Regions from separate parts of the Homo sapiens genome. Here region 1 is linked to region 2. The links come from fine-mapping of genetic effects on gene expression. Tissue or cell type: whole blood. Region 2 holds a variant in brackets; the other region holds the start of a gene. All regions are shown on one strand. Distances are from middle to middle.

Region 1 (10,740 bases), 220 kb after region 2:
AAAGTAATAGACATTTTTATAGAATTTTAAGCAAAAAAGTTACTGGGTAGGACAGAAAGCAAACCTTCCCCTTTCCTTAAATAGAAGATAAAGTCTGAGTTTGCCTCACAATTCCATTTGTACAAAGGAGCAAGTACAGGACTAGGGCCCTGGCTCACTAGCGCCCACCCTGGAGGGACTGCACCAGGAGGACTTACTCACATATGAGGGTGCAGCACAGCATACACCCTCCAGAGGACTCTTATTTGTGCAATCCCATTAGAAGCAGGGCTGCACCAGACATTAAAGGCCATATATTGTATGATTCCGTCTACATGAAATGCTCAGAATAGGCAAACTCATAGAAACAGAATGCAGATTAGTGGTTTCCAGGGGCTGGGTAGGAGGAATAGGGAGTGATTGGTGATGGTTTCCCTTTGGGGTGATAAAAATGTTTTGGAATTAGACAGTGGTGATGGTTACACAACTCTGAACATACTAGCCACTGAACTGCATACTTTAAAAGTGTACAATTTATAAGTATCTAAATTATATCTTAGCAATGGGGGGAGGTCTATCTTTATAATAAACATTTCCAGTAGTCTGCCTCCTGTTATCAGTAAAAGAGGGAAGTAAGGAGATTAAGGTAATTATGTCAACAGTTCTTGATGAAAGGAAGGCTGGAATTAGATTCCGAATTGCCTATATAAGATGGCCAAAAATTCTAGAAACTAGAAGTCAGAGATGAAAGACCCTGTTCTCAAAGAGCTCAAAGGGAAATTATGCACACGGAAAGAACAACCAGTAGGAAGAGGGGTATACAATAAGGTACTGGTTGCTCCCCAGTGAGCACTGGGCAAGTCTTCAACCATCTACATGCTCCAACGTGCAGCAGACCCTGACCAGGAGCCAGGTGCACCTGAGCTTCACTCACAGACTTCCAAAGGGAGTCCAAAGGGAGAAAAGCTAGGAAGCCAAGTGAGCTTTTCCCAATTTCATCTTTGCATCCTGCAGTCTCTTGACCCAATACTGACACTACTCCCCTTCTTGTGATGGCCCAAGGAGAGGAAACAGCAAGAGAAAGGCTGAAAGGTGAGAAAGGAAGGAAGTAAATTACTGGCAATAGTTTGGCAAGATCGCGAACTCCTTACAGAGGTCACAGCAGCCAAAGTGACCTTAAAATATAAATCGTATCATGTCACCCCCTATTTAAAACCCATCCAAGGCAATCAGAAAATGCAAACTCCCTACCACCATCTGGAATGAAATGCACACTTCTACCACTGACCCTACCTGCTGGCACCTGCACCTCTCTGGTGCCTCCCCCACCACTCTTTGCTCACACAGAGCTAAGCTGTGTGCTGCCTCAGGGCCTGACACACTCTTCTCCCTCTCCCTGGCTCTGCTCTTGGCTGGCCCCTTCTCATTCCTCAGGTCTTCTCTACCAGAACTGTTTATTTACTTTAGAGGGCTTACCACACGGTCACTACTTTGCCTATTTCTTGCCTGGGTAGACTGCTCATTCAACAAGGACAGAGAGTATGACTACCTTATTTCTTGCCATATCTAAAGTGCTACCACAGTGCCACACATGTGACTGGCATTTGATTTTTGCTAAATAGATGAACCTGTATTTTAAAAAATAACTCTGGCTAGGGAGCATAAGAGTTACAAGAGGTATGGAGAATAGTTAAAATGAAGGTGACTGCTATGGTCTGAATGTTGTGTTCCCCCAACATCCATATGTTGGGACCTAATACCCAATGTATTAGTATTAAATAGTGGTGCCTTTAGGAGGCAATTAAGACATGAGGGCTTGGCCAGGTGTGGTAGCTCACGCCTGTAATCCCAGTACTTTGGGAGGCTGAGACAGGTGGATCACCTGAGGTCAGGAGTTCAAGATCAGCCTGGCTAACATGGCAAAACCGCATCTCTACTAAAAATACTAAAATTACTCAGGCGTGGTGGCACACGCCTGTAATCCCAGCTACTAGGGAGGCTGAGGCAGGAGAATTGCTTGAATTTGGCGGGGGTGGGGGCGGCCAGGGATGGCGGTTGCAGTGAACTGAGATTACGACACTGCACTCCAGCCTGGGCAATATAGAGCGAGACTCTGTCTCAAAAGAAAAGAAACAGGCATGAGAGCTCTGCCCTCATGCATGGGATTCGTGTCCTTATAAAAGAGGCTTGAGGGAGCCAGTTGACCCTTCTACCATGTGAGGAAGCAGTGAGAAGATGCCATCTTTGAAGCAGGGAGCAAGCCCTCACCGGACACCAAATCTGCTGGTGCCTTGGTCCTGGATTTCCCAGCCTCCAGAACTGTGAGCAATAAATTTCTATTGTTTATAAATTATCCAGTCTAAGGTATTTTGTTATAGCAGCCCAAGCAGACTAAGACAGTGTTCACAGGTCACACTTTAAGCAACATGGATTTTGATGCTACTAAAGACCACCATTTTCAAATACTTTTTCTTTCTTTTGGACAATTATACAATCATATTGGTTATGCAATGAACAGACTTGATTAGACTAATGTAACACCGACCGCCTGAATATTTGCTCACGGGGGTCTGTATGCTTTATTCTGTGCACACAATCCCGTTTTTCCTTGAGTCTCCTCCATAAAGCAGAGCCCGGGGTAGGCCTCAGGGCTATATGTAGCTAGACTTTCTGGAGTATGACTAAGTGTCTGTACCGGACTAACACAGTAACAACTACTAGGTAACTGCAATTTAATTGCTCAAATCAGAACTAACTTCTAAAACATGTTTCTTCCCTTATAGTCATAGACTAAATTCTAGCCTAACTAGTGACAGATACAAGCTGTAATAATGTGTTATCTGTGTCTTAGCCTCCTAGGTGAAAATTTTTTCTTCCTTTATTTTTATCCCTATGGTTGAAGAAAGTAGCAGAGACCAACTGAATGAAGGTAAAAACCACTGGCTTTCTTAGGAAGAACTGTAGAGCAAAACAAAATTCATTTCTGGAGAGGAATAATTCCTACTTGAACGAATGGAAAAATAAAATCGTAGAATTAAAAAAAATAAACACATTGTAGAATAAAAACAACTTTGGTAATAAATTCAGATCCTAATCGTAAAAATTCATTTTTTAAGTAGCTCAATTATATAAATGACTCACTTATATAACCAAGGAGCTATATCATGGAGCATTTTTAAAGGTTTTTGTTTTTACACTAGGGTAAGCATTTCCCAAGTTTGTCTGTAACATGTGGCTTTTTCAAAATAAAAGAAAATGAGAAAATTCTCCCTACTGTCTCAATTAACGTAATTATGAATTAAGGAAGACCTAATTGATAGGGTTTTACTCTCTAGGTGCATAAATATATGGTGAAATACTCATTAAAATAATTACTAGACAGAAGTGCTCAGCTCCCTGTACCTTCTGAGATCCTCCCACCAGTAAAGGGAGGACGACAGAGTGGTAGCGCTTTCCTGTTAGTGTGCCAAAGAGAGGGGACACTGGTCACCAGGATAATCTAATGAAAATACCTCTGGGCTAATCGTCAAGAGATAGGGATTAAGTTAAGGTTCCAAAATGGTGAATACTATCCCCACCCCTTATGTCCAACCTCATCCCTCCCCGCCGAGCTTTCACTTTTCTCCCGGGAATTGCGGATGTGCAGTCTACTGCAGCAGCCCTGCGGGGAGGAATGGAGGAAGGGAAGGGGACGGCTGCAGGGTGTGTCACTTACGAGATGTAGGCTGGGTAGCCAAATCCTATCAGGTTGCAGAGGAGAGAGGCTCCATAACCGAACACCAGGTACAAGGCCACCAGTCCGATGACACCTGGGGACCACAAGGAGAGAAGTGGGTCGGGCAGCATGAGAGCCGTTCACGCGGGACAGCCGCCGCCCACACCGCGAGGCTGGGCCTGTTGTAGGAGTTTTCCTCTCGACTCGATTAAAGGAGCGAGAAAAACAAACCACACGAAAGCTGGGCCTGCGCGTCCGCTGGGCTATGCCTTGAAGTCTGGGGATACCAGGCAGCCCCACCATTGTGCCTCTCCTACCTCCCGCAGGGGGCCCCGGCGCTTTGCGCAGCAACCCCCGGCGCCCGGGACGGTCCCAGGCACCCGCTTCCGCCCTCTCGCAGGGCCTGCTGGGCAGCGCTCCAGCCTGGGAAGCTGCGCTCAGCGGGGAGCGTCCCGAGAGGCCCGGACTCCCGCACACGCTGCAGTAGCAGCCCCCGCCCACCCGAGAGGCGCCCTCTCCGGGCGGAGCTCCACGGAGGGTCGGGTAGGACCGGGTACCTCCGTCAACGCGCCCGCCCGCAGGGGCCCCGCCGTCCGCGCCCACCGCGCAGGACAGCAGGAATAGGGCGCCGGGCCGCGGGGCAGACATACGTCAGCGCTGGCCCTTCCAGCTGCCAGCGCCCGGCGCCGCAGCTGCCCTCCAGCCCCGCGACCCTCAGCCTGGGCAGCCCCCGCGGGGTCCTCCGATGCCCACGCTTTCCGGGAGGCCAGCCTGATCCCTGAATATGCTGCTTGTCCCGTCTGTCTCCGACTCCACCTTTCCCGAGTCCTCTCCCTGCTTCCTTCCCCAGCAGCTGGGGCAGCGGCGGCTCCCGTGGCCCTACCAGCGGCGGCGACCCCCGGCCACCCACCAAGAGCGATGAAGCTCCTGTTCACGCCGGTTTTGGCCTCGAGCTTGGCCAGAAGGTCAGTCATGCAGTTCTTCTCGTGCAGGAACCGGTCGAACCTCTCCCTCATGGCCGCAGACATGGCGGGGACCGTCTCGCCGCTCGGGGCTGTTCCTAGTGCCGGATAGACTGGAGCGGCGACTGCGGCGGAGCAGCGGCAGGCGGGGACCGCGGCGCGTCTACGCGTCCTCCACTCGCCTCCGCTCGCCCCGCCCGGCCGCCGCGCGCCCCTCCTCGGCCGCCGCGCGCCCCTCCTCCCCCGCCCAGCGCCAGGGGGACAGCGCCACACCCTGGCGGGGGCGGGCCTGCAACTCCGCGGACGCTGCGAGGTGGCCTGCCTGTTGACAGTCTTAACCCATTGCGGGGTAAAAAGGATGTGGCGTGGGGGCGTGCATTTTGTGTCTCTCGTGGGTCCCCTTCTCAAATCGGACTATTGCAAAAAGCAGGCAGAAAGGAGGCAGGCGTCCTTGTTGCTCCCGCCTGCAATTCACTGCGATGAGTTTGGCACCTACATTGCTGTGCTAAACCTAAGGCATTTTTGACCTAAAAAATTGAAATGTTTGAGCATCGTGAAAGAACTCTTTGGAAGCAGTCCTGCTTTCTCCCTCTTTGCCTTAACTTGGCAGTTTTTCTCACCTACAGACAATCGTTGCCTTGTAAAGACCCTTGAAGAAATCTAACACATCCTCCCTGGGGTACACCTTTTCCAAGCAAAAACTGCATTAAATCTTTTCATGGTGGGCTTGCGTTGTCTTGGTGTCTGATACTGTGGCAAGTGTCCAAATTCTCTCTGTGGAGCCAATATACTCTGCACTTCCTACAGTCAAAATACTCTGAAGAAGACGGAGATTCTAAGGTCCAAGCCTTAGGGCAGGAGCTCATTTTTGCTTCCTTCAGAATGAGTTGGCCATGCTCTTCCTCCACCTAAACCTAGGCTCCTCTTATCTCACCCATATGACTTCCAGACACTCCTAAAATTACTCTTGTTGACTCCTATTCTGCACACTGCTGCAGAATTTTTGTCCGAAGCTCCGTATTATTATCCTAACAGACTAGAGCTCCCATTCCTTGGCAGAGCATTCAATGCCCTGCCCACAACTGGCCCCGAACATTCTGTCTTGGTCCTACACAACCCCTCTGTGCTTTCAAATCTACTTAATTACCCTACTGCCTTCCACTTCTGCAAAAAGTTATCTTGCCCACGCCTAGCTTTTTCCTTTTATGCTAATTCTCCTTCCTCCTTTCTTCCTCAGAGCTTCTTAGCTCAGCTTTCTCAGCTGTTCCTACCACCACCCAGCCAAATCAGTGAACAAGTGAAACAACCTGCTGTCTACTTCTGTCTTTTCACCTACAGTTAATTCTCAATGTGGCAGACAGTAGAATCTGTTTTAAAATGTGCGTCAAGTTGTGCTATGTTTTTGTTCTCAACCCTCCAGCAACTTCCTATCTGCCTGAAGGAGGGCATCAGGGTCACAGGTGACATGGTTCATCCCTCCCCTTTCTGATGTCTTCCCTTACTGCCTCCCTCCTTGCTGTGCCTCAGACAAGGTAAGCCCATTCCTGCCTCTGGGCGTTCGTTCACTTTTCTTCTATTTCAGTGGTTCTCAACCAGGAGCACTTCCTCTCCCCTTCTTCCTCCTGGGGGGAGGAGTAGCAATGTCTAGAGATACTTTCGTTGTGAAACAGATTGTCACACAAGGAGAGCAGGAGGTGGCAAGTGCAACTAGCATCTAGTGGTTAGAGACTAGGGGTGCTGCTAAACATCCTGTAACACACAGGACAGCCCCCACAACAAAGAATTATCCAGCCCCAAATGTCAATAATGTGACAGTCCAGAAACCCTCCTCTATCTGAAAGTATCTTTCCCCAGTTAACCATTTAACTGTCCCCTTCCATTATTCAGATATTTGTTCAAATGGTACCCCTAATCTCAAATTGCAACCCCCAGTGGTCTCTAGCTTGATTTTTCTCCATAGAATTTATTACTGTCTGGCATTATGTTCTACTTTTTTTTTTTTTTTTTTGAGACTGTCTCACTCTGTCACGCAGGCTGGAGTACAGAGGCGTGGTCACAGCTCACCGCAGCCTCGACCTCCTGCTGTGCTCAAGCCATCCTCCCACCTCAGCCTCCCAAGTAGCTGGGACCATAGCCGTGTGCCACCATGTCCGGCTAATTTTTTCTGTTTTTAGTATAGATGGGGTTTCACTATGTTACCCAGGCCAGTCTTGAACTCTGTGATCTGCCCACCTTGGCCTCCCAAAGTTCTGGGATTACAGGTATGAGCCACCACCATGCCAGACCATGTTCTATTTTTAAATTATCTTTCTTTCCTCACTAGATTATGAGCTCCGTGAGGGTAGACATTTTTGCTTATTTTATTTGCTTCAATATTTTAAGCACATTGAACAGTGCCTGGCACTTAGTAGTTGTTCAATAACTATTTGTTGAATTAATGAATGAATGAATATCTAACATGTGTTGTACCACCCAGTATTCCAAGTGTTACGTGGACTAGTTCATTTAATCCTCACAGCTGCATGAGGAAGATGCTACCTGTTTCATCCTCATTTAAGGAAAAAAAAAATGAGACATAGTGAGTTCCCATATCACAATAAGTGGCAGAGCTAGAATTCAGAATCAGGCTCTTACCCCTATATTACATTGCTATTATGGGTTGAATTGTATTCTACCTCCCTAAAGAAGACATGTTGGAATCCTAACCTACAGTACCTCAGAGTGTGATCTTATTTGGTAATAGGGTCTTCAAAGAGGTAGTCAAATTCAAATGAACTCCTTAGGGTGGACCTCAATCCAGTGTGACTGTTGTCCTTATAAAATGGGAAATTTGGCCAGGCGCGGTGGCTCACACCTGTAATCCTAGCACTTTGGAGGCCGAGGCAGGTGGATTACGAGGTCAGGAGATCGAGACTATCCTTGCTAACACGGTGAAACCCCATTTCTACTAAAAATACAAAAAATTAGCCGGGCGTGGTGGCGTGCACCTGTTGTCCCAGATACTCAAGAGGCTGAGGCAGGAGAATGGTGTGAACCCAGAAGGCAGAGCTTGCAGTGAGCCGAGATCAAGCCAATGCACTCCGGCCTGGGCAACAGAGCGAGACTCTGTCTCAAAAAAAAAAGGGGGGGTGAAATTTGGACGGAGACAGATGCATATAAAGGGAAGACTGTGAAGAAACACAGGGAGAAGATGGCCATCTACAAGCCAAGAAGAAAGTCCTGGAACAGATCATTCCCTCACAACCCTCACAAGGAACCAATCCTGCTGAGACCTTGATCTTGGACTTCCAGCCTCCAGAGCTGTGAGATAATAAATTTCTGTTTTATTTATTTATTTAGAGACAGGGTCTCACTGGGTCACCCAGGCTGGACTGCAGTGACACAATCTCCACTCACTGCAACCTCCACCTCCCAGGTTCAGGCAATTCTTCCACCTCAGCCTCCCAAGTAGCTGGGGCTACAGGTGTGTGCCACCATGCCAAGCTAATTTTTTTTTTTTTTGTAGAGATGGGGTTTCACCACACTGGCCAAACTGGTCTCAAACTCCTGACCTCAAGTGATCTCCCCATCTTGGCCTCCCAAAGTGCTGGGACTGCAGGCATGAGCCACTGCACCTGGCCTCAATTTCTATTATTTAAGCTACCCAGTTTGTGAGACTGTTACAGCAGCCCTAGGAAACTAGTACAGCTGCTTAGCAGAATAACTGAACTGTAAACTTCAAACCAGTTGTGAGTTTGTATAATTTCCTACTGAGTACAGTATGTATATTAAGTTGGGGTTGTTTTTGAATACTTAAAGTGATTCATAATTTGATTTTTTTTTTTTTTTTGAGATGGAGTCTGCCTCTGTCACCCAGACTGGAGTCCAGTGGCATGATCTTGGCTCACCGCAACCTCAGCCTCCCAGGTTCAAATGATTCTCGTGCATCAGCCTCCTGAGTAACTGGGACTACAGGTGCACACCACCACGCCTGGCTAATTTTTGTATTTTTTTGTAGAGATGGGGTTTCACCATGTTGGCCAGGCTGGTCTTGAACTCCTGACCTCAAGTGATCTGCCTGCCTCAGCCTCCCAAAGTGCTGGGATTACAGGTGGCCACAGTGCCGGTCCTGATTTTTTTTTTTTTTTTTTTTTTTTTTTAGACAAGGTTTGACTGTATCACCCAGGCTGAAGTGCAGTGCACAATGTTGGCTCACTGACCTCCACCTCCTGGGCTTACGCCATCCTCCCACCTCAGCCTTCCAAGTAGCTGGGACTACAGGTGTGCACCACCACACCCAGCTAATTCTTGTACTTTTTTGTAGAGATGGAGTTTTGCCATGTTGCCCAGGCTGGCCTCAAACTTGTGAGCTCAAGTGATCCGCCCATCTCAGCCTCCCAAAGTGCTAGGATTACAGGCATGAGCCGCTACACCCAGCCTCACAATTTGATTGTTTTATTTATTATTTATTTATTTTAGCAAAGGAGCAAAATCCTTTTAAGTTAGGTATCCAAATCAACCTAGGTTTTTGTCACTACATTTCATGCAGTGGCAACATTTGTACTACATTAACTATGCATGGAATATCTAGAAACATATTGTTCATTTGCATTTCTTCCTTTCTTCCTTTTTTTTTAATTTTTTTATTTTTCAAGACAGGATCTTACTCTGTTGTCCTGGCTGGAGTGCAGCGGCACCATCATGGCTCACTGGAGCCCTGACCTCTTGGGCTCAAGCAATCCTCCCACCTTGACCCCACAAAGTGCTGGGATTATAGATGTGAGCCACTGTGCCCAGCCCTTGGCTTTCTTTCTGTAAATATTGCTCTTTTCAATTTTCTCTTGACATAGATTCCAAATTTCTTCTTTCTTCAAGCATTCAACCAATGGTGAGGCAAAGCAGTATAGTGAGGCATAGTGTGGAGTTCTATCTCTGGATTCAGTCTGTATGAGCTAAATCCCAGCTCTACCATTTAGCTATGTGACTTTGGGCAAGTTGCATAAGCTCTCTGTGCTTCTGGTCTCTCATCTGTAAAACAAGGATAAAAATAGTACCTATTTCACAGAGTTCTCATCATGGTTAGGTGAGTTACTATTTGTAATGTTTTTAGAAGAGTACTTGATGCAAAATAAGTGTTTAAATAATTTAAGAAAGAAAAAAAACACAGCTAGGTGTAATTTTTTTTTTTTTTTTTTTTTTTTTTTTGAGACAAGGTCTGGCTCTGTCACCGAGACGGGAGTGCAGTGGTGTAATCTCAGCTCACTGCAACCTTTGCCTCCTAGGCTCAAGCCATCCTCTCACCTCAGCCTCCCAAGTAGCTGGGACTACACGCACATGCCTCCAAGCCTGGCTAATTTTTGTATTTTTTGTAGAGATGGCATTTCACCATGTTGCTCAGGCTGATCTTGAACTCCTGAGCTCAAGCAATCCTCCCACCTCAGGCTGCCAAGGTGCTGGGATTACAGGAGTGAGCCATCATGCCCAGCCTCTAAAATTGAGATAGAGAAATATTACATTATTCTTGACTTTAGTAAATTACAATCAGATTCGGGGAGTATGGGATCCTAGTTTATCCCATCAGCACTGTAAACCTTAGATTCTTTCATAGCAGAGGAAAGAGATGCAGAAAATAAGAACCCAGAACCCTGCCTAAGGTCTCAAACTATTCACTTACTCATATTTACTAAATATATCCTGTGTGCCAGATGCTGTTAGATCTGGGAACTAGATAGATGAGATCTGTTTTGGAGGCTGTGAAGAAGGTTGGCCTGGAACCGGTTGACACTGGCAATTTTTTTTTTTTTTGTCCCCCAGGCTGGAGTGCAGTGGCGCAATCTTGGCTCACTGAAAGCTCTGCCACCTGGGATCATGCCATTCTCCTGCCTCAGCCTACTGAGTAGCTGGGACTACAGGCACCCGCCACCACACCCGGCTAATTTTTTTTTTTTTTGTATTTTTAGTAGAGATGGGGTTTTGCCGTGTTAGACGGGATGGTCTCGATCTCCTAACCTTGTGATCCGCCCGCCTCAGCCTGCCAAAGTGCTGGGATTACAGGCATGAGCTACTGCACCTGGCCAACTTTGGCAGTTTCTAAGGAGGAAGTTG
Region 2 (11,582 bases):
CTCCAATACATTATGCTAAGTGAAAGAAGCTGGACTCATAAGGTATAGGACAGTCTGCAAAAAAACAAAATAAGAGGGATAGAGAAGTAATCAGTGGTTGCCAGCAGCTGGAAATGGGGAGGGGTTGACCACGAATAGGCTCAAGTGAACATTTGGGTATGACAAAAAAGTTCTATATCTTGATTGTGGTGGTGGTTACATGACTGTCTGCATTTGTCAAAGCTTATTAAACTATACTTTTAAATGGTGAATTTTGCTGTGTATAAATTACAGCTCAATTTAAAAAAACAAAAACAAAAACAAAAAACTCTGACCCAGATCACTGTGGTCATTGTTGGTGGAGACTGCTGGCCTCTTAGCTCTCTTATGAGTGGGGTTACCAGCTAATCCCTGACATATTTGTGGTTCCAGGACTCCTAAAGGGTTGTGCAATGGTTTGTCTCCTTTCTCAAAGACAGCTGCTGGCTGATGGTAAAAGATAAAGAGAAAGAAAGATGTACACAGGCAAGTCAGGGAGAAATTTATCTTTCTTTTCCTTCCTGTCTTTCTTTTATATTCTTCCTCCCTCTTCTATTTCCTGCAGCCCTTATTTTTCTTTCACTTACTTTTCCTATTTATTCATCAGCTGAAACCTTGCTGAAAGGGATTAGCTGGGGGCTAAGTCGAGTAGGGCAAAAGGAAGCATTTGCTTCTAATCAGTAGTACACTGGTAAATGATTAGTAACCAGCTCTCTGAAACACCCACACACACACACAAACACACACACACACAAACACACACACACACAAACTAAAGTTTCTTTTAAATTTTACTGATATGAAGAGTATATAGCACAGGCTGGGTGCAGTGGCTCACGCCTATAATTCCCAGCAATTTGAGAGGCTGAGGCAGGTAGATCACTTGAAGTCAGGAGTTCAAGACCAGCCAAGGCAACATGGCAAAACCCCATCTCTAATAAAAAAAAAAAAATACAAAAATTAACTGGGCATGGTGGCACACGCCTGTAATCCCAGCTACTCAGGAGGCTGAGACAGGAGAATTGCTTGCACCCGCAGGCAGAGGTTGCAATGACCCGAGATCATGCCATTGCACTCCAGCCTGGGCAACAGAGCAAGATTCCATCTCAAAAAAAAAAAAACAAACAAAAAGAAAAAATAGAGAAAAAAGAGTATATAGCACATAGTGTATAAATATTAGCAAAACAGAAAATGTTCTTTAATGTGACTTTCATATAGCCAATAATTCTCCTGATTTTTGCCCATGATTGTTTCATTGATTTTTGCTGAACTTTTGTATCTGTAGCCAACCTATCATTATAAATAACAAACAAGTGTAGTTTTGACAAGAATCCTGGCTGATATTTTCTTAGTCATTAATGAGTAAGATGAAAATGAAACAACAAAGATATATGTTAGAACTTTATTTATTTGTCTATAATGTGAGCGACTTGGAAGAATTTGATAATGGTTTTTAAATACCGGAATAATATTTCCTCAATCTGTGTGCTATTCGCAAAGTAAGAGCAATAGACGTGACACGCTTTTAACTTTAATGTACAGCATTAACATTTTCTCCATCACTAGACTATCAACAAAACAATAAGTCAAGCCCAGATTTTGAGCATTTCTTGAGTTCCCTGGTGTAAATGCTCTCGCTCTGGCCAATTTCAAACTACCAATGTGACATCATTGAACTTAGTGTTTTGAGTAGATGTGCCCTAGAACATTATACAGTTTTTCCACCATTTAGATACAAGAGATGGAATGGCATCAGGAGCATAGGAAATGGTTAAATGTGAGAAAATGATTTGAAAGTGATGAGTTTTGAGTGCTTATTACCTTTGTTTTCAATATAATTTATTGAATTGCAATTTTATATTATTTAATTTTTAATAATAGCTGTGTGTAATTGCCAACTCATAAAATCTCTAAACTGACTTTCTCTCAGTTCTTTAAGCTGGTTCCAGTCTACTAAAGATCTTGGTGCAAGTCTCTGGATCCCTCCCCAACCCCAAATGACGGGGGAGCTGTAGCAGCATGAAGGGAGAGCGGATGCAAACATATGTTGTTTCTCTTGAGCCCCACCGCTCTCAACGTGCTGCTGGGGCTGCTTTGGTCTTGTGGGATGTTCCCCTGAGCTACTCAGACTGGTTGTTAGGGCGGATTATCAATGTCATCAGCCAAACCATAAACTGTGTCAAGATATTGATGTGAATTTCAGTGAAATAAATGATTTGGTTTTCTTTGTTAAATTTTATTCATTAAAATATGCTTTTATAAAATGAGGATTTATTGTAGAGGGCAATATTGTTATTCTGAAATGCCTTTCATTTTAAAGTAAACCTGGAAAGAGCACCACCAAAATGGTGACAATTCTTATCTTGAATGGTGAGATTTTTTTCTTTCTTCTTGAGATTTTCTGGAGTTTCCAAATTTTCTATGATAAACAGCTAAGATTTTGGTAGTATGAAAAACAATTGAGACAAATCTTTAGTAACTTGATATTCAAGTTACATTGGTGCTGTCCCTTTAAGTACTAGAAGAATACGTAGCACTTTCAGTAAAATAATGCCGAGGGAGGAGACATTGCTATGCTCAGTTTCATTTAAAAGCCAGATGTCCAGGAATTGGATATGGCTAATTATCAATTTCTACCCAGATGGAGAGTTTTCCTTTTTTTTTTTTTTTTGTCATTAGACAGAAAAGCACAGAGTCTCTGGCTGATTATTGCATTCAGCCACTTTAATTGGAAAGTTTTAAGAAATAGGTGGAGCTTAAAAGAAGGGAAGCTTAGTGTATCATGAGTGAAATGTTGATACAGGCACAAGAGAAACAAAAAAAGAAGAAACATGTATAATTGGTGTCATAAAGATTTTCAAACTTGCTCTATGACCAATTCAATTACTGCTGGAAATGGAATTCATACCTTCTCATGTCTGCCTTCCAAATTATACCAAGATTTAGCAGCTTATAACAAGAAGTATTTTTTTTTCACAGTTTCTATTGGTCAGGAATTTGAGCATGGTTTACCTAGGTACCCGTGCTTCAAGGTCTCTCATAAAGCTTTCAGCCAAGTCTGTGCTATCATCTGCAGCCTTGACTGGGAGAGTCACTTCCAAGCTCTCTCACATGATTGATGGCAGGGAGTTCCTCATGAACTGTTGGACTAAGAACCTCAGTTCTTCACTAGCTTTTGGGCAGAGGCCTCCCTCAATTCCACGTCAGGTGGGCCTCTCCATAAGGCAGTTTATGTTCTGGATTGGAGCATGTCTTCCACCTTGGTTCATCCATCATTTCTTGTCTTCTAGACACTTGCCAAATCTCTCATCAGCTGATGGAACATTCTTCATTCTCAATAGTCACAAATTTATTCCCTTTTATGCAGTTATTGGGCAGGGAACAGACCCAGGTTTTATCATGAAAGGGTGTTGCATTTTGTCAAATGCTTTTTCTGTATCAAATGATGTGATTACACATGAATTTTCTTCTGTAGCCTGTTGTATGTAGATAATGTAGATCACATTGATTTTCGAATATTGAACTAGCCATGCATACCTGGGAGAAATCCTACTTGCCATGTCATATTTTTTTTAAATATATTATTGGGTTTGATTTTCTAGTACACTCAAAATCCTCCATATCTGTGGGTTCTGCATCCATAAATTCAACCAACTGCAGATCACAAATATTTAGAAAAAGAACAATAAAAATAACAATATAACAATGAAAATAATAAAAATAAAAACCAATATAGTATAACAACAAGTTACATAGCATCTATCCTGTATTAGGTATTACAATCATGAAGTGCATAACAATATTTTAGTCAATAACAGACCACATATACAACGATGATTTCCTAAAATTATCATTCTATATTTTTGCTGTAACTTTTCTATGTTTAAATATACACACACCTACCATTGTGTTACCATTACCTACGGTATTCAGTGCAGTAACCTGTTGTATAAGTATGTAGCCTAGGAGCAATAAGCTAGATCATATATCCTATGTGTGTCCTAGGCTATACCATCTAGGCTTGTGTAAGTACATGCTATGATGTTTGCACAATAACAAAATCACCAAACGCATTTCTCAGAATGTATTCCTGTCGTTAAGCAGAGCATGTCTATAAAGTCATCTAGAGGTGATTTAACATATACAGAGGATATGCCTGGATTATATGCAAATACTGTGCCATTTTATATAAGAAACAAGTATCTGTGGAATTTGGTATTCTCAGGAGCTTGAAACCAATTCCCCATGGATTCCAAGAAAAAACAATGTTTCGTTGAGGATTTCTGTGTCTAAGTTTATGAGAAATATTGGTCTGTAATTTCCTTTTATTCTACTGTTTTTGTCTAGTTTGGGTATCAAAGTAATACTGGCCTCATAAAGTGAATAGAGAAGTAGTCCTTCTTCTTCTATTCTCTAGGATAGAATGTTTAAAATCAGAGCTTATTCTTCTCAGAATGTTTGGTAGAGTTCTCCAGTGAAACCATCTGGGTTTGGAGATTTCTTTTTCCAGAGCGTTTTAGTGGCAGTTCAATTTATTTCATGGTTATAGGACTATTCTGTTTCATCTTGTTTGAGCTTTGGTCATTTACGGTTTTCAAAAATTGGTCCATTTCTTCTAAAGTTGTTTAATTTATAAGTGTACATGTGTCCATGGTATTCCCTTTTATTCTTTTAATAGCTGCAAGAATTATAATTATATCCTGTTTCATGACTGATATTGGTAATTTGTGCCCCCTCTCTTTTTATTTTGTCAGGCTTGCTAGAGGTTTATCAACCAGCTTCATGTTCTATTGATTTCCCTATTGTTATTCTTTTCAATTTCATTGATTTCTGCTTTTATCTTTATTATTTCCTTCCTTTTGCTTTTTTTGAGTTTATTTTGCTCTTCATTTTTCTTGAGGTAGAAACTTAGGTGATTAATTTGGGATCTTTTCTAAGGTAATCATTTTATTTTTTTGAATGTAGTCATTTAGTGCTATGAATTTCCCTCTCAGCACCACCTTAGCTTCATTCCACCAATTTTGATATGTTGTATTTACATTTCCATTCAGTTCTGTATATTTTCTAAAACTTTCCTTTGAGACTTCCTCTTTGCTGAGGTATTATTTAGAATTGTGTCATTTAGCCCAGGCACAGTGGCTTACGCCTGTAATCCCAGCACTTTGGGAGGCCAAGGTGGGCAGATCACTTGAGGTCAGGAGTTCGAGACAAGCCTGGCCAACATGGTGAAACCTTGTCACTACTGAAAATACAAAAATCAGCCGGGTGTGGTGGTGGGCGCTTGTAATCCCAGCTACTCGAGAGGCTGAGGCAGGAGAATCGCTTGAACCCGAGAGGCGGAGGTTGCAGTGAGCCAAGATCGTGCCACTGCACTCCAGCCTGGGCGACAAGAGCAAAACTCCGTCTCAAAAAAAAAAAAAAAGAAGTGTGTCATTTAATTTTCAAGTGTATCGAGATTCTCCCATTGCCTTTCTCTCATTGATTACTAATTAAATTTCATTATGCTCAGAGGACATATTCTGCATAGTTTTGTTTTCTGGCCAAAGATGTGGTGTGTCATGGATGCTTTAAAAAAAAAAAGTGTATTCTACTGAGTGTTGTATTAATGTCAGTTAGATCCTA[T/C]TGATTAATTCTGTTGTTCAAGTCTTCTATGTATTTGCTGATTTTCTGCCTAGTAGTTCTATCAATTACTGAGAGAGGGATGTTGATGTCTCTAACTGTAATTGCAGAGGCCCATGATAAGGCATTGAATTTGAAAAAAAAAATACAACGTTTGAATATAAATTTAGGTGAAAAAGTAAATATTTCTTTAGAATGAAAAAATAAATCTAGAATGCTGACACAAAATCCACAAGCATCACAAAACCTGGAAAAATAACACAAGTGCATTATTTTACTGCCTGACATACCTCTGTAGTTTTGTCCTAAATTTTTTTCTAGATGCTCTTTAAGTGGTGATTTTGTTTTATTATAATTTAATAGATTGAATAGAAATATAATTGTCTTTCTTCTAACATGGTTAATCACAAAATTTTTATTATTGATAGTTTAGATTTTTTTCAGCTTGACAACTTGTTATTAGTAATGGCTTGTGATTTCTTAAGATTGTTATCTCATTTGGGAAAATTTCCATCATGTCTTTTCTTTTTCCGTGTTACCTACACGTTCATTTTCCATATGTGCTATAAAGTTTGGAAGAATTTTCTATAGACTAACTTCTGGCTGTATACATACTTCGGGTTCAGGTGCCACAGAACATGTTCATGTTACAACACAAACTCTGGTCCTGCCCCATTGTGTTAGAATGCAGACAGAGTCAGGCACTGGACTGTAGAAGTACTCCTGGAAGTTATTACTCCACTAAGATAGTTATCAATAAGATACTAGACACAGACATAACTATGAATCACATAAATATCCTCTGACCAAATTTTTAAAAATGTCTCTTAAACTCAACTTCCCCTTAGCTGGAACCCAAAGTTATTACAGCTACTCTAATACCACCTGACAAAACAGACCTGTGACAGACAGTAAGTCAAAGTGGAAAGAGAAATGCCCTTAACCAATTGTGATTAAGAGATACTACTTTTGCAGATTTTACAAAAACTTATGAACATATTGCTAAGGCATTTTCCAGGACCTTGAAAAGGGCCCACGCAAGTGAAGAGCCTTGAAGCTTAACATTCATTAGTTTCATCAAAAATTAAGTCCTGCTACTGATATTTTAGTGGAATATACAGAGGAGAAGGAAGTAAACACTGGTACTTAGCCCCCCATCTAGCAGCAGAAGTTTCTTGGATGTCTTTTTAAAAGTACTTTTTATTATGAAAAATTCCAAGCATACACAAAAGTAGTAAGAATAATATAATGAATACTCATGGTACTCATCATCCAGCTTCTGTTTGTTTGGACACTTTCAATTCAAGAAATTGTAGGAGATAAATACAAATATGAATAAGATATGGCCTATGCCCTCATGTATGTATCTATTATAGTAAAGAAGACAAGACATGAGGCCAACACATGGCAATGTAATACTACCTAAAGGAGAACAATAAGCCATGGAAGCAGAGATGACCTCTGGCCAGGGATGACCAGTAAGGGCTTCAAGGAAGACATGGTCTAGGCAAAAAACAAGTACACATTTTAACTTGTCGACGCTGAGACAGAATTGAGATATCTAAAATACATATTTTCTGGGTTTTTACCCTGGAGCTCCTCTTGACATTTAGGAAATAATCCAACCTCCTTACTATCTATCTAGACCTCTAACTGGATACTCAGATTCATTCAGATTTAAGTATCATGTATTGAGTGCTTGCCAAGTGTGACGGCTAATTTTATGTGTCAACTTGACTGGGCTAAGGGACGCCCAAATAAGTGATAAAATATTATGTCTGGGTGTGTCTGTGAGGGTGTCTCAGAAAGAGAGTAGCATTTGAATTCATAGACTGAATAAAGAAGATCTCCCTCACCAATGTGGGTGAGCATCTTCTCCTGCCTTGGACGTTAACTCTCCTGTTTTTTCGAGCTTTCAGACTCAAACCGGCATTCATACTGTCAGCACCCTGATTATCAGGCCTTCAGACTCAGACTGAATTACACCACTAGCTTTTCTGGTTCTCCAGCTTATGGATGGCAGATTGTGGGATTTCTTGGCTTCTATAACCACATGAGCCAATTTTTATAATAAATCTCATATATATTCTAGTGGTTCTGTTTCTTTGGAGAACCCTAAATAATGCACCAGGTGCTGGTCATTTTCATATGTACCATTTCATTTAATCCTCACAACACAACAAGCCTGAGATAGATATTATAAGCACCATGTCTGAAGATGAGAAGAAAAATCCAGAGAGACAACTTGTATAAAGCTGCACAGATTAAAAAAAAAAAACATAACTAAGCCCAGAAATTCTAACTTCAAGTGTTTTTTATCACCTACCCCTTCATGGTACTTTTATTAAATTTTCAAAATACTTCCCCATTTCACAAACCTTCAGTGGCTCTCAGTCACTACATGATGAAATTAAATGTCCTTAGTTTACCATTTTCCATTCTCTACAATCCAGTTTGGTTTTCCTTCAACTTTATTTTCCATTTGTAAGACTATGTCTTAATTCTCTTACTGTGTTTAGGAGATTGCCCTCCTCATGAAGCAGAAATTCCCTCTCACTATCGAAATTAGAAGTTCATATGCTCATTTTCCTGGCCTTCCTATCAATTACCGCTGTGCTGTCAAACATGGTAGCCACTGGCCACACGTGGCTACTGAGCACTTGACGTATGTCTAGTGGCACATGTTGAAATATTTTGGATATATTGGGTTAAATAAAATATATTATTAAAATTGGTTTCACCTGGTTTTTGTTTTGCTTTAGAGTCAGGGTCTCCCCCCCGTCACCCAGGCTGGAGTGCAGTGTCACAATCATAGCTCACCGCAGCCTGGAACTCCTGGGCTCAAGTGATCCTCCGGCTTCAGGTTCCTGAGTAACTAGGACTACAGGCATGCACCACCATGCCCAGCTAATATTTTTTTGTAGAGACAATGTCTTACTATATTACCCAGGCTGGTCTCAAATTCCTGGTCTAAAGCAATCTTCCCATCTCAGCCTCCCAAACTGCTTGGATTAGAGGCTGGTTTTTTGTTTTTGTTTTTGTTTTTAAACTGTCTTATGTGGCTACTAGAAAATTTAAAATTATGTATGTGGCTTGCATTATATTTCTATCAGACAGCATGTAGGTAGAGTGTTAATGTGTTACTAGGTTATATCCATGATTTGCCCCCATTCTAGGCTTGAGGTTGAAAGCTAATGTTGTGAATATGAAGTGACCCTCCATTCTGTTGAGAGTAGTGGCAGTGATAGTAACTGCATCTATCTTCCAGAAGCAGCAGAGGCATCATCCACTCTGGGTCAAGTGGTACTGGCAGTCTCAGTTTTGGTATTTGCATCCAGCAGTGGCTACAGTGATGGCTTCTTGGGACCAGTTCCGGGCATAATGTTGCGTGTTGTTCCTGAAGATCCTGTAGATGTCAAATATCCTTCTAATAAATTCCTTTTCTGCTAAGGCCCTTCATGAAGTCTCCCTCTCCACCCCAGTCCACAGGATCCTTCCCTTTTTCAGCATCAATAGTGAATAAGATCCAAACCACGCACTTGGCACTTTGCCCATACTATTTATCTTATCATAGGAAAGTGTCTAGTTTTCTCAGCCAGACTGTAAAATTCCCTGTGGCAGGAACCCTGTCTTTACATAATTGTTTCTTAGTATCTGTCAGACCTTGGTCACAGCATCACTGGAGGAATACTTGTTAGTTACCACTGCAGATCTTTGAAGTAGGCAGGGTGGCTGTCATTATCTCTGTTTGTACAGATGAGGAAACTGTTGTTCAGCGACTGGCTTGAGGTTGTGCAGCTGGCTTGCTCATACTGGAGCGGTAGCTCAAGCCTTCTCACTGCCTGCCAACATCTCTTTCCTCTATTTCAGGCCCTGCCAGATAAAATGGTGTATTAATTTCATAGAGCTGTTATAACAAAGTACCACAGATTGGGTGGCTTAAAACAACAGACATTTATTGACTCAGAGTTCTGAAAGTTATAAATCCAAAGTCAAGGTGTCCACAGGGCCATGTTCCCTCTGAAACCTGTAGGAAAGTCCATGCATGCCTCTTCCTAGCTTCTGATGGTTTGTTGGCAGTCTTTGGCATTCCTTGGCTTGTAGCTGCATAACTCCAATCTGCCTTTGTCCTCATCTGGCATCCTCACGTTCTGTCTATGTCTTCACACGGTCATCTTCTTAAAGGGACAGTAGTCATGGTGGGTTATCCTACCCTATTGCAGTATGACCTCATTTTATCTTAATTATATCTGCAATAATTTTATTTCAAAATAAGGGTACATTGTTTGGTACTGAAAGTCAGAACTTCAACATACCTTTTTTCGGAGTAGTACAATTCAGTCTCTAACAGATGGTAACCATAAGAGAAGTAAATACCATAGAAACTGAAGACTTTGTCTTGTTTCTAGGATTTATTCCAAGGATTACATTGTAGTGAGGTAGAAGGCGGGGAAGTGTTTTCAAGTATATATTCCTACCTACTACTTGATTTGCATATGGACTGATAGGGCTTGGTTGAAGAGCATATGTTATGGGTTCAGTGAATCTCTTCTCTCATATAAGGACTAAATGGCCCCCACAGATAAGATGCCAGCCCCATCCTTTCTGGCAGGTCTCCCCAGCCATCCTGAGGCAGCTATCCCATTTAGAGGGGAAATGATGGTGTGTAATTCTGATAAGTCAATGGAAGAAGAGGTTGTTGCAGTGAGCCTATAACTCTTTTCCAGAAGGGTCTTTGGGGGTCTAAGGTATCAGCTGGGTCCTAGATGGGCCAGCAAGTCCCATCTAGGCACATTGAGAAGCCTAACCAATAGATGCAGCTAGCCTTTAGACTATGTATCCATTTTGCTGGTATTTCTTCTTTTCCTTTAATGAAAATATATATGTTATTAATAAAAATAAATACAGAATTTAAAAAACATTAAAAGGAAAATGCTAAAATGAGTTCTGCTCTAGTTCAAAAGAAAAGAACGACAGTAGTTTCCAGGCAGGCCCTTTGAGGTCCTACACAGGGATAGTAATACGACTGGGACCCTTAAGTGGGGGTAACTGAATGAAATCTCTAATGAAAGCCTGCTAATGACACAGAATCAAATCTCTGAGTAAGCCTGTCTCCAAATCCAATTTCTCTAGATGGGAAGGGCATGGGCTTTATGGTCAGCACTATCCCTTAATGTGAGACCTTGGGCAAGGGACTTAATCTCTCTGAATTTGCCCATGTATAAAAGTGAGGATAATTATCTAGCAGGGCTGTGGTGAGGATTTCATATCTAACATAGTTCACAGCACATATAATAGGGATTGCATTAACTTGAAGCCTTCCTTCTCTCCATACTACAACATATGTAATATAAACCCTGCCCACTGTCCCACAATCACCCACCCTTCTCCATCCCATCTGCTCTCTCTCCAACCTTCCTACTTATATTCTAGCTGAGGAGACATATAAATAAGAAGTGACTTGCATTTCATTTTAAAAACCAAGTGAAACCAATATAGTACACCACCAACTACTTAGATGCTGACAAACTTCCACACTTATTAAATCAACAAACACTGAGTGACAGAGCACTCATGCCAGGTATGGTGCTATGCACTGTGTATTCATTGGTAAACAAAACGTATTCCCTGTCTTATGGAGTCGACTGTTTAGTGTGGAGGCAGTGAAGAAACAAAACATAGATCATTTAAAAACATATTGAGTACCATGGAAGAAATGATAAGGTGCAATGATTGAGAATAATAAGGAAGACAGGGGAAAATTTATTATTCTTAGGAAGGACGGTCTTTCTGAGGTGATATTTAAACTGAAACTTGAAAGATAAGAAGTTAGACATTTAAAGAACAAGAAGAAGTGTCTTCTAGGTAGTCAAGGGGGCATATACAAACCAGAAAGGCAGTCGGGAGCTAGAAGTGTTTGAAGAGGAGTAGTGGGGGCTAGGGGA

The links. PIP is the estimated chance that this variant, and not a neighbour inherited with it, causes the effect. A credible set is the group of variants that fine-mapping cannot tell apart.
Region 1: REEP5 starts here. The variant in region 2 is the best candidate, but not a certain one, in a credible set for the expression of REEP5 in whole blood (TOPMed, PIP 0.62).

What each region holds. Positions count from the first base shown.
Region 1 is chr5:112,917,469-112,928,208 of GRCh38, forward strand. REEP5 (receptor accessory protein 5) reads right to left here and starts at 4,759. Exons shown (of 5, transcript NM_005669.5): 1 at 4,605-4,759; 2 at 3,695-3,788. The coding sequence starts at 4,722. LOC105379123 (a long non-coding RNA gene) reads left to right here and starts at 4,919. Exons shown (of 3, transcript XR_948675.3): 1 at 4,919-6,188. RefSeq lists silencers at 3,950-4,399, 4,760-5,029 and an enhancer at 6,162-6,281.
Region 2 is chr5:112,694,893-112,706,474 of GRCh38, forward strand. No RefSeq gene overlaps it. Among named protein-coding and RNA genes, the nearest start is that of APC, 37 kb to the right of the region's middle. RefSeq lists a silencer at 9,260-9,554 and an enhancer at 9,260-9,554. The variant T/C (reference allele first, on the strand shown) is at 5,641.